Linked DNA regions of Homo sapiens. The protein of the gene in region 2 purifies or fractionates together with the protein of the main gene of each other region. This does not show direct contact. Each region holds a gene or a part of one and is shown on either strand. Other genes may lie near its edges. The genes, in order: RIOX2 and PGGT1B.

Evidence for each region.
Region 1: the proteins of PGGT1B (region 2) and RIOX2 purify together in Homo sapiens (affinity purification with mass spectrometry, with the first as the bait; one large-scale study listed by BioGRID). This does not show direct contact.

The regions. Positions count from the first base shown.
Region 1 is NC_000003.12:97,951,662-97,955,481, forward strand, and holds part of RIOX2 (ribosomal oxygenase 2), read right to left. Parts: intron 2,835-3,820; coding exon 2,731-2,834; intron 592-2,730; coding exon of another isoform or gene 534-591; exon of another isoform or gene 491-533; intron 481-490; exon of another isoform or gene 1-480. UniProt on the Homo sapiens protein: Oxygenase that can act as both a histone lysine demethylase and a ribosomal histidine hydroxylase. Is involved in the demethylation of trimethylated 'Lys-9' on histone H3 (H3K9me3), leading to an increase in ribosomal RNA expression.
Region 2 is NC_000005.10:115,210,645-115,214,464, forward strand, and holds part of PGGT1B (geranylgeranyl transferase type-1 subunit beta), read right to left. Parts: intron 1,940-3,820; coding exon 1,758-1,939; 3' UTR 1,664-1,757; coding exon of another isoform or gene 1,634-1,663; 3' UTR 1-1,633. UniProt on the Homo sapiens protein: Catalyzes the transfer of a geranyl-geranyl moiety from geranyl-geranyl pyrophosphate to a cysteine at the fourth position from the C-terminus of proteins having the C-terminal sequence Cys-aliphatic-aliphatic-X.

The DNA.
Region 1 (3,820 bases), on a different chromosome or scaffold from region 2:
CTAGTAGAAAATGGAAATTCACAGTATGACTTTTACTTCTCACTCAGTAAGCAAAATTAACACTGTTATGCTTCCCTCCCAGAAAAGTTGCAAAGGAGGACAAAAGCCACATGAGAGACACTTTTCCCAAGACATCTACTACCTGGCGGCCTCACTGCTTTGTGACTTAATGTTATATCCAACCCTGCATCTTTAATTGAGTCTCAACCCGGAGGGCACATGCAGATCTCTCAGCACCATACAATATGTGCTTCCTTTGCAGGTTTATGTAGGTGGAAGTCATACAGCAACAGCTCATGGAGGAATTTAGTAGAAGTTAAATAGTGCTCCTCTAAGAGTCAGAATAGATATTGGGACTTCCCACAATTTAGGAATATCTCTTGAAGGGTCCACTTTGGTAAAACAACCAAATCAACAACATACAGCAGACCCCCAAACACTCCAACAATGCTACCTTGACAGGTGTTAGGAAGAGGCCCCAAATATTCACCTTTACATGGTACCTGAAGGAGCATTAGGCTCAAAACACAGGATCATTTCTGGGGAGCAATGGCCCTCAAGTCACATCTTCTCATTCTAGCTCCAGCATCACTGTCCAAGACACAGGTCAAAATCCAGCCTGGACACATTGATCATGGTACCCACCCACAATCCTAAGCAGGCAACTTCTGTAACTTAGGAAGCTCTTCCCAGCCCCAGCTGAAAAGAGAAGAAATGAATAGGACCCAGGGGCAGCCGGCCAGTTCCTCACTCTTGGGATTGGGAAACAGAGAGTGAGTCAGGTCCTTAGCAGAAGCAAAAGCTAACAGGGTCAATGAGATGGAGGTCAGAGTAGCAACTGGTGATGGCCTAATGTTATGAGTAAACAGAAGCTGAAGAAGGAACAGAAGGGAGAAAACACCAGTCACTAGAAAACCAGTTGGTAGCAGCAAGAGAAATGGAAAAGAGAATTACAGAAAGGGAGTACCTGAGAAACATTAACGATGGGACACCCACAGATGCACGGATATTCAAAGGGCCAAACTATGTGGTCCAGAACTGCTCTGAATCCAGAATGGACTTCTAATTCCAGCCTCTCTGTAGCCTGGAGTTTCTAGGACTCACTCCCTCAAGTGACCCTGCACTTCTTGAGCTGGCTTTGGTGACTTTCTGTCCCTTAAAATGCAAGGAACCTACCTAGCCAAAGTGATGAGGGCATTTTTCAAAATGGAAGCCTAATACAAACTTGGGCCTTCTACTTGTGGGAAAGATAGCACTAAACTAGGGCCAGGCCTCAGCTAATTCCTCCAGTAAGTCTTTTAAATGTAGAGGTGAAATTCACACTGAAAAGTCTGATGAGGAAGCAGAGGTATGCTTACTAACTTGTTTTGCAAGTTCTGGCCCTGAAGGTAGGAGGTGACTTGCCGTCCCTTGGACCTAGAATGTCCTCTCCTACTCTGATCTGCTGACCCACCCCTACTTACTCATCCTTTAAGACTCACTCAGCATTGGTGTCATTTCTGAAGGCTTCTCTAATGCCCCTACTTAGCTAAATGCATTCCTCTATGCTCCAAGAGTCTCCTCTGCAAACCTACAATAGAATTTATCACACCATCTCTTCTCCTACAACCAATTCCAAAGTATAAGCTCTCTCAAAACCCCTTCGATAAAATCCTTGAATTCCCAGCAACAAACACAATGTCTAGTACATATTTGTTTAACACATTAACTCATGACTAGTATTTTTTTTTTTTTCCTGAGACAGGGTCTCGCTCTGTCGCCCAGGCTGGAGTGCAGTGGCGTGATTTGGATCACTGCAACCTCCACCTCCTGTGTTCAAGTGATTCTCCTGCCTCAACCTCCAGAGTAGCTGGGATTACAGGTGCACACCACCACACCTGGCTAATATTTGTATTTTTTTTAGTAGAGATGGGGTTTCACCATGTTGGCCAGGCTGGTCTCAAACTTCTGACCTCAAGCGATCCACCCGCCTCAGCCTCCCAAAGTGCTGGGATTACAGGAGTGAGCCACCACGCCTGGCCATGATTAGTATTTTTAAATATGATTTGGACCAGCAAGGTTGCTGCTTTTTGGATATAACTCACACAGCACTGCCACCCAGTGAGGAGGTACTAGCTGAAATGAACATGATTTTAATTGGAACTGCTGTCAGCACATGCACTTTAGTTCCTGCTGTTCCAGACTGCCTGTCCTACTTTAACTTCATGGACTGTAAAAAGAGAAACCCTCAAAGAGACCAAGAGATTTCAATGGGTACAGAGTTTCTGTTGGAATAAACATGTTTTAGAAACGAATAGTGGTGATGGCTGCACAAGAGTGTGAATGTAATTAATGTCAAACTATGCTTTAAAATGGTTTAAAATGGTATATTTTATGTTCTATATATTTTATCATATTAAAAAAAAAGAGAGAGAGTATGAGCCCAGCCTGGCATCACTAACACACTGATGTACCCACAGCTAGTCTCTTTCTTTCCAAACTATGTGACTCTCTATTTGGGCAATGCCCCACATCCTACAGAGTCAGGTTCATGATGTCCCCAGAAGCAAGTCCAGAGGGACCAGTCACATACATGGGACATCAAAGGAATGTGGAAGTCAGTAAAGGACATAAACCCTGGGGTTTGCATAGGAGGTAGGGGCCAACTCCCTCATATCCCTCCTGAATGTGGCTGCTGCAGGCCAGGACTCAGAGCTGTCCTAGCATGTGCAGCTGGGAGGCAGTGTTTACTTGTTCTGGTAGGTGCTGATGGTCACGTGAGTAGAGTGGGCCAGCCCCGCAGGAGTGTCCGCTTGATGAATGGTTCCTCTGGGAAAGTACAACAAATCACCCGGCTAAAGGAAGGAATAGGAAAGGGTAGAGAAGTTAATAAGTATTCCTTCTCAGTCCTCTTCATTTCAGGGAGATAAATATGGGCTTTGAGTCTCAGTTCTCCATTCTAGAAACCACAACCTCAAGGCACAGTCTATATGCTGGGCTCATGTCGTGTGCAGCTAGTCTAGCTTCTCTGTGTCCGTGAGCCTGTCACTGTTAACCATGATCCACGAGAGGCTCTCGGTGCCTGAAGTCACTATCTTTTCATTCTCAAGCTGAGACTAGACTCACCTGAGACTACCCTGCCCTGATGCAGGGATCAAGGAAGGTAACATCCTGTGCCTGGGACGCCTGCTTCCTCCCTCTTGCATGCTTCAGTGGTTAAGAGTAGGAGCTTGAATTTAGAGTCACACAGACACAGCCACTTACTGGCTGATGATCTGGCAATTTACCTGCCCAAAGCCTCAGTTTCTTTATCTGTAAAATGAAGTTTAATAGCCCCAAACCTTACAGGATTATTTTGAGGATTAGAGATGCTGCTTCCAAGCTCTTAGGGCAATGATGGGCATGTGATTGGATTATATGATTTTATCCGCCAGTCCCCCACTTCCTGATAATTTTTGAGTACTTCTAGGCGCAGGGTCTGTATCTTACCATCTTGTCTTTCCCAGAGCCTACCCTAGCAAAGCACCTAGCACTCAACACAGGCTCAATGAATGTTGGGATGAATTGAAAAACTATACAATCCCTATTTCAACTGAAAAATAAGATGTAATCAAAAATTCATCATTTTCTTGGGCAGCTGAGCCTCCTCTACCCTATTCCAAGTGGGTGGACCAAAACATTCTCCCCAAATTACTCCTGCCCTGAGCTGCCTCCTTCCCAATCCCACTCAGGCCAAAATATTCCATGTAGCAGCTACCTATGGAGAAAAGAGGGAATCTTGAGGGCAGCTCATCTTCTCTCTGCAACTACAAGAGGTAGTCTAGTGCAATGGTTAAGACCA
Region 2 (3,820 bases):
TTGCCTTCTAACCTTTCTTGGTGATACAGAAAAAACAATTTGGGCTTTTTATATAGTCCTAAAGCCATTATATATATGCTACTTTAACTTCCAATGTCTAAGAGATGACTTAGTTTGAGATATGGATGTCTTAATCTGCCAGGATTTAAATAGTAGCAACTGGAATAACCCATAGACGGATAACATCTGTTATTAAGCTTACTTTTTCCCCCACCATCAGAAGATTTATTTTATTTCTAATTAAAAAACATACAGTTGGCAAACTCAGGTTTAAAACTAAGCATGCCAATAATAAATCAATCATTTCTCCAAGTACACAGTGTTTCCCTTGGGAAGGACTGTTATTTCACAACATTTTTTTCCCTCTGATTTAGAAAAAAAGATAACATTTAAAGTATTACAATGCCTAAACAGTGATACCAGTAATCCAGTTTTTATACTGATACTTGTATTTCAACATTTATTATCACCAAGACTAACTTAAAGCCAACTCCTTTAGTGAAGAGATTTCTTTCCCCATTTCAGTACTAGACGCAATAGTTCTGAATGTCACTGAGCAAGTAACGGATATGAGTTATTGATAAATTAATTACTAATGAAGAGTTTTTATACTACCTCCTTTATAATTAGCTAGTTCATAGACTTAAAACAAAACAATGAACAAAAACAAAACCCTATTTCTTACCCTCTAAATGGTCGCATTTCCCTTTCACTTACCTGAAAATATGAGAATAAAAATGACCATGTATTGAGTTACACCACTGAATCTGTTTGAATGGTTCTGTTTTTGTATTTTTTACTTATTTAATTTGAAAAAAATTAGAAAAGTATTAGTTTGAAATTAGAGCAGCTAACACACTGGGGGCAATAAATTAAAAACTTCAAATGGCTAAAAATGAAAACACAAAGTATCTTTCCTTCTAGATAAAAAAGATTGTTTTCTTCCTAGAAAGCAAAAAAAAAAAAAAAAAAAAAAAGGCAACTAATGATTTGAGAATAAAATCAAACATAACTGGTATTCACCACAGCAATGTCTAGATAAATGACCCACATAGCACAAAACTTTCTCATTCACAATCACATACAGTTAAGTTGCTTTTCCCTCAGTTACATAATAGTTGTCTTCAAACAATCTCCTTTTAGAAAACTATCACATTAGTTAAACCTATTTATTCTTACTATGAAGTTATTAACTTCATTTATATAGGCCACACAGGTTTAATTGGCACACTTTACTTAAGAATAAGACAAAATAAGTCACTCTTCTTTAAAAAAAATTATGGTCATCTGTTTTCAAAGAATAATCCCAGATACTTAATTAATTAAAGCAAATTTTCTACGATCAGCAGTGAGCTTTTTAAATGATCACTAAGTGTTCACCTGAAGATTATCAATGCTATATGAAGTGTAAACTTGAAAATTTGTGTCCATTTTATAATAAGATACAATTTGCACTGAAGAGTTTTTAAAAAGATAACCTACACACATACAGTTAATTTGCCTCAAACAACTTCTTAGAAATACAGTATAAACATTTAAGAACCACGACAAAGTTGTGGTTCAAACTTCAACAAAGATTTTCTTGAAACCCAGTATAAAGATTACTGGCTCAAGACCATATCCCAAAGTGAAATCAGCAGGAGATTTGATTGTAAGACTCTACCTTTTAAAAAAAGAGCACACTTGGTTATACATGGCTTTTAAACTTGAGCTACAGTTATGCTACAAATCCCCCCACCCTCCCAATCTAAAATCAGTCATGTGGAGATATGTACATTCTCTGAGCATTGTTTAGAGTCCTTGGTTTTCCAGCTTTGATGGAGATCTAGAAGGCGTTCAGAAGTCCGTGTGCTTACATTCAGAGCAGGATGAACTTTACAAATTCCACTTTCCTCCATTAGTGACAGGCCACAGATCCCAAAGTATGCATGCAAAGCATCTGAAAAGAAGGCATTTAAAACATCATAATAGGCATTCTTACTTGTACATTCTACAGAATATTTTAGCCACATATTTACCAGCCCATCACTCCATTAAAAGTAAGTTTAGAGAAATGCTAATATAGTTTTAAAAATATTTGCTTTCTCAAAGCCTCAAACACCAATTAAAAAAAAAACTCAGATGATCAAAATAAAATATTTTATTCATGAAAATATCATTAACAAAGGAAAACAGTTTCCAGCTGAAGAGCTGATACTGTCCATAACCTCTGTGATTAAAAGACAGGAGTAGCAGCAGTCATATGTAAGACTTCTCACTTTGGGGAGTTTCCCCTCTTGCTTACTAGAGAACATGAAAACGAGTAGCTTCAATGCTATATCATTAAGTTTTTTTTTCTTTAAAACGAAAACAAAACTCTGAATCTAAGTTGCAATATCCCTCGCTCCACGTTTTACCTCTGAAAGTTCCTAAACCATATGCAGTACTATCCTAACATTGTGTTAAATAAAAGGAGCTTATGCAAAAATAATCCATTCTGGAATGCTGTGCCATATTTAATCCTCCTATTTAGGGTAATGTCAGTCATTGTAAAAATATCTGATCTGACAATAAAAACAAACTCACATTCTATTTGGTTGAAATAATATGAGTGCTCATACCATGACAATTCTGCACTGGCTCACTAGTTTCCCATCTTTCAGGGGGCAGCGATCCTCTTCTATTAAAGTGGCCAATGAAATCACATGGCCATTCCTGCCTAGGAGTCTTATGTAGACTTCTGAAGAGCTCAGAGCTTTGCAGTTATAGGAACATTAAAAAGACAGTTTTGTACCAGTCAAAATTTTTTTCTATTTTTGAATTGGCCGACATTTATGGCCTTAAGAGCTATTAAAGTTCAAAACAGGCTGGGTGTGGTGGCTCACACCTGTAATCCCAGCACTTTGGGAGGCCGAGAAGGGCATATTCCTTGAGCCACAGGAGTTCGATACCAGCCTGGGCAATACGGTGAAGCTCCATCTCTACAAAAAATACAAAAATTACCAGGTATGGTGGCGTGCGCCTGTAGTTCCGGCTACTCGGGAGGCTGAGGTGGGAGGCTCACCTGAGCCTAGGGAGGTTGAGGCTGCAGTGAGGCATGATTATATCACTGCACTCTAGCCTGGGCAAAATAATGAAACCCTGTCTCAAAACAACAACAACAAAAAGTTCAACACATCTTACCACATCAAACTTTGTCAAAAGAGTTAAAGAAAAAGCTTTACTTACAACAGTATCACTTATTTTTCAAAACAGAAATGACAAATAGCTGTGCTTACTCAATGCCATTGTGAAAATGTTATTTAACTAATGGAGGCCCATGTTGATCACCTTTTAGGCCTTTTCAGAAAATACTTAGGTTTCTTCTGGCTCACTTTCCTTTGACTTTCAGACTATAAAAAATAAACTTGATTTCACCTGTCATATTACATCCATATAGTTATTCTAAAACTACAAAGGGTACAAAGCAACATTAAGCTTTGTTTTCTAGAAACTAGGAAACTTTTCTAGGAAAAAGTACAACAGAAAATATATATCTATAATAACATAAAATAGAACTGTGTAAAACTAAAATCTCTCTGGGTAAAGTAACAAATAAAACTTATTTGTTTCTCAAAAAGATTTTTGTAACAGCCAATGAGATCAGAACTCAATTGTTTGAAGCCTCAAATTGTGTTTTTAAAAAAACTCCTTATCTGTAAGTGGCAACGTACAAGCACTTTAGATGTGGAACTATATGTTTACTCCATAATAAAGCACTTTAGATGTTGAAATATATATTTACTCCACAATAAAAGGTTATTCTTTTGAAGTTTCTTTCATAAATGTATATAAAATCCCT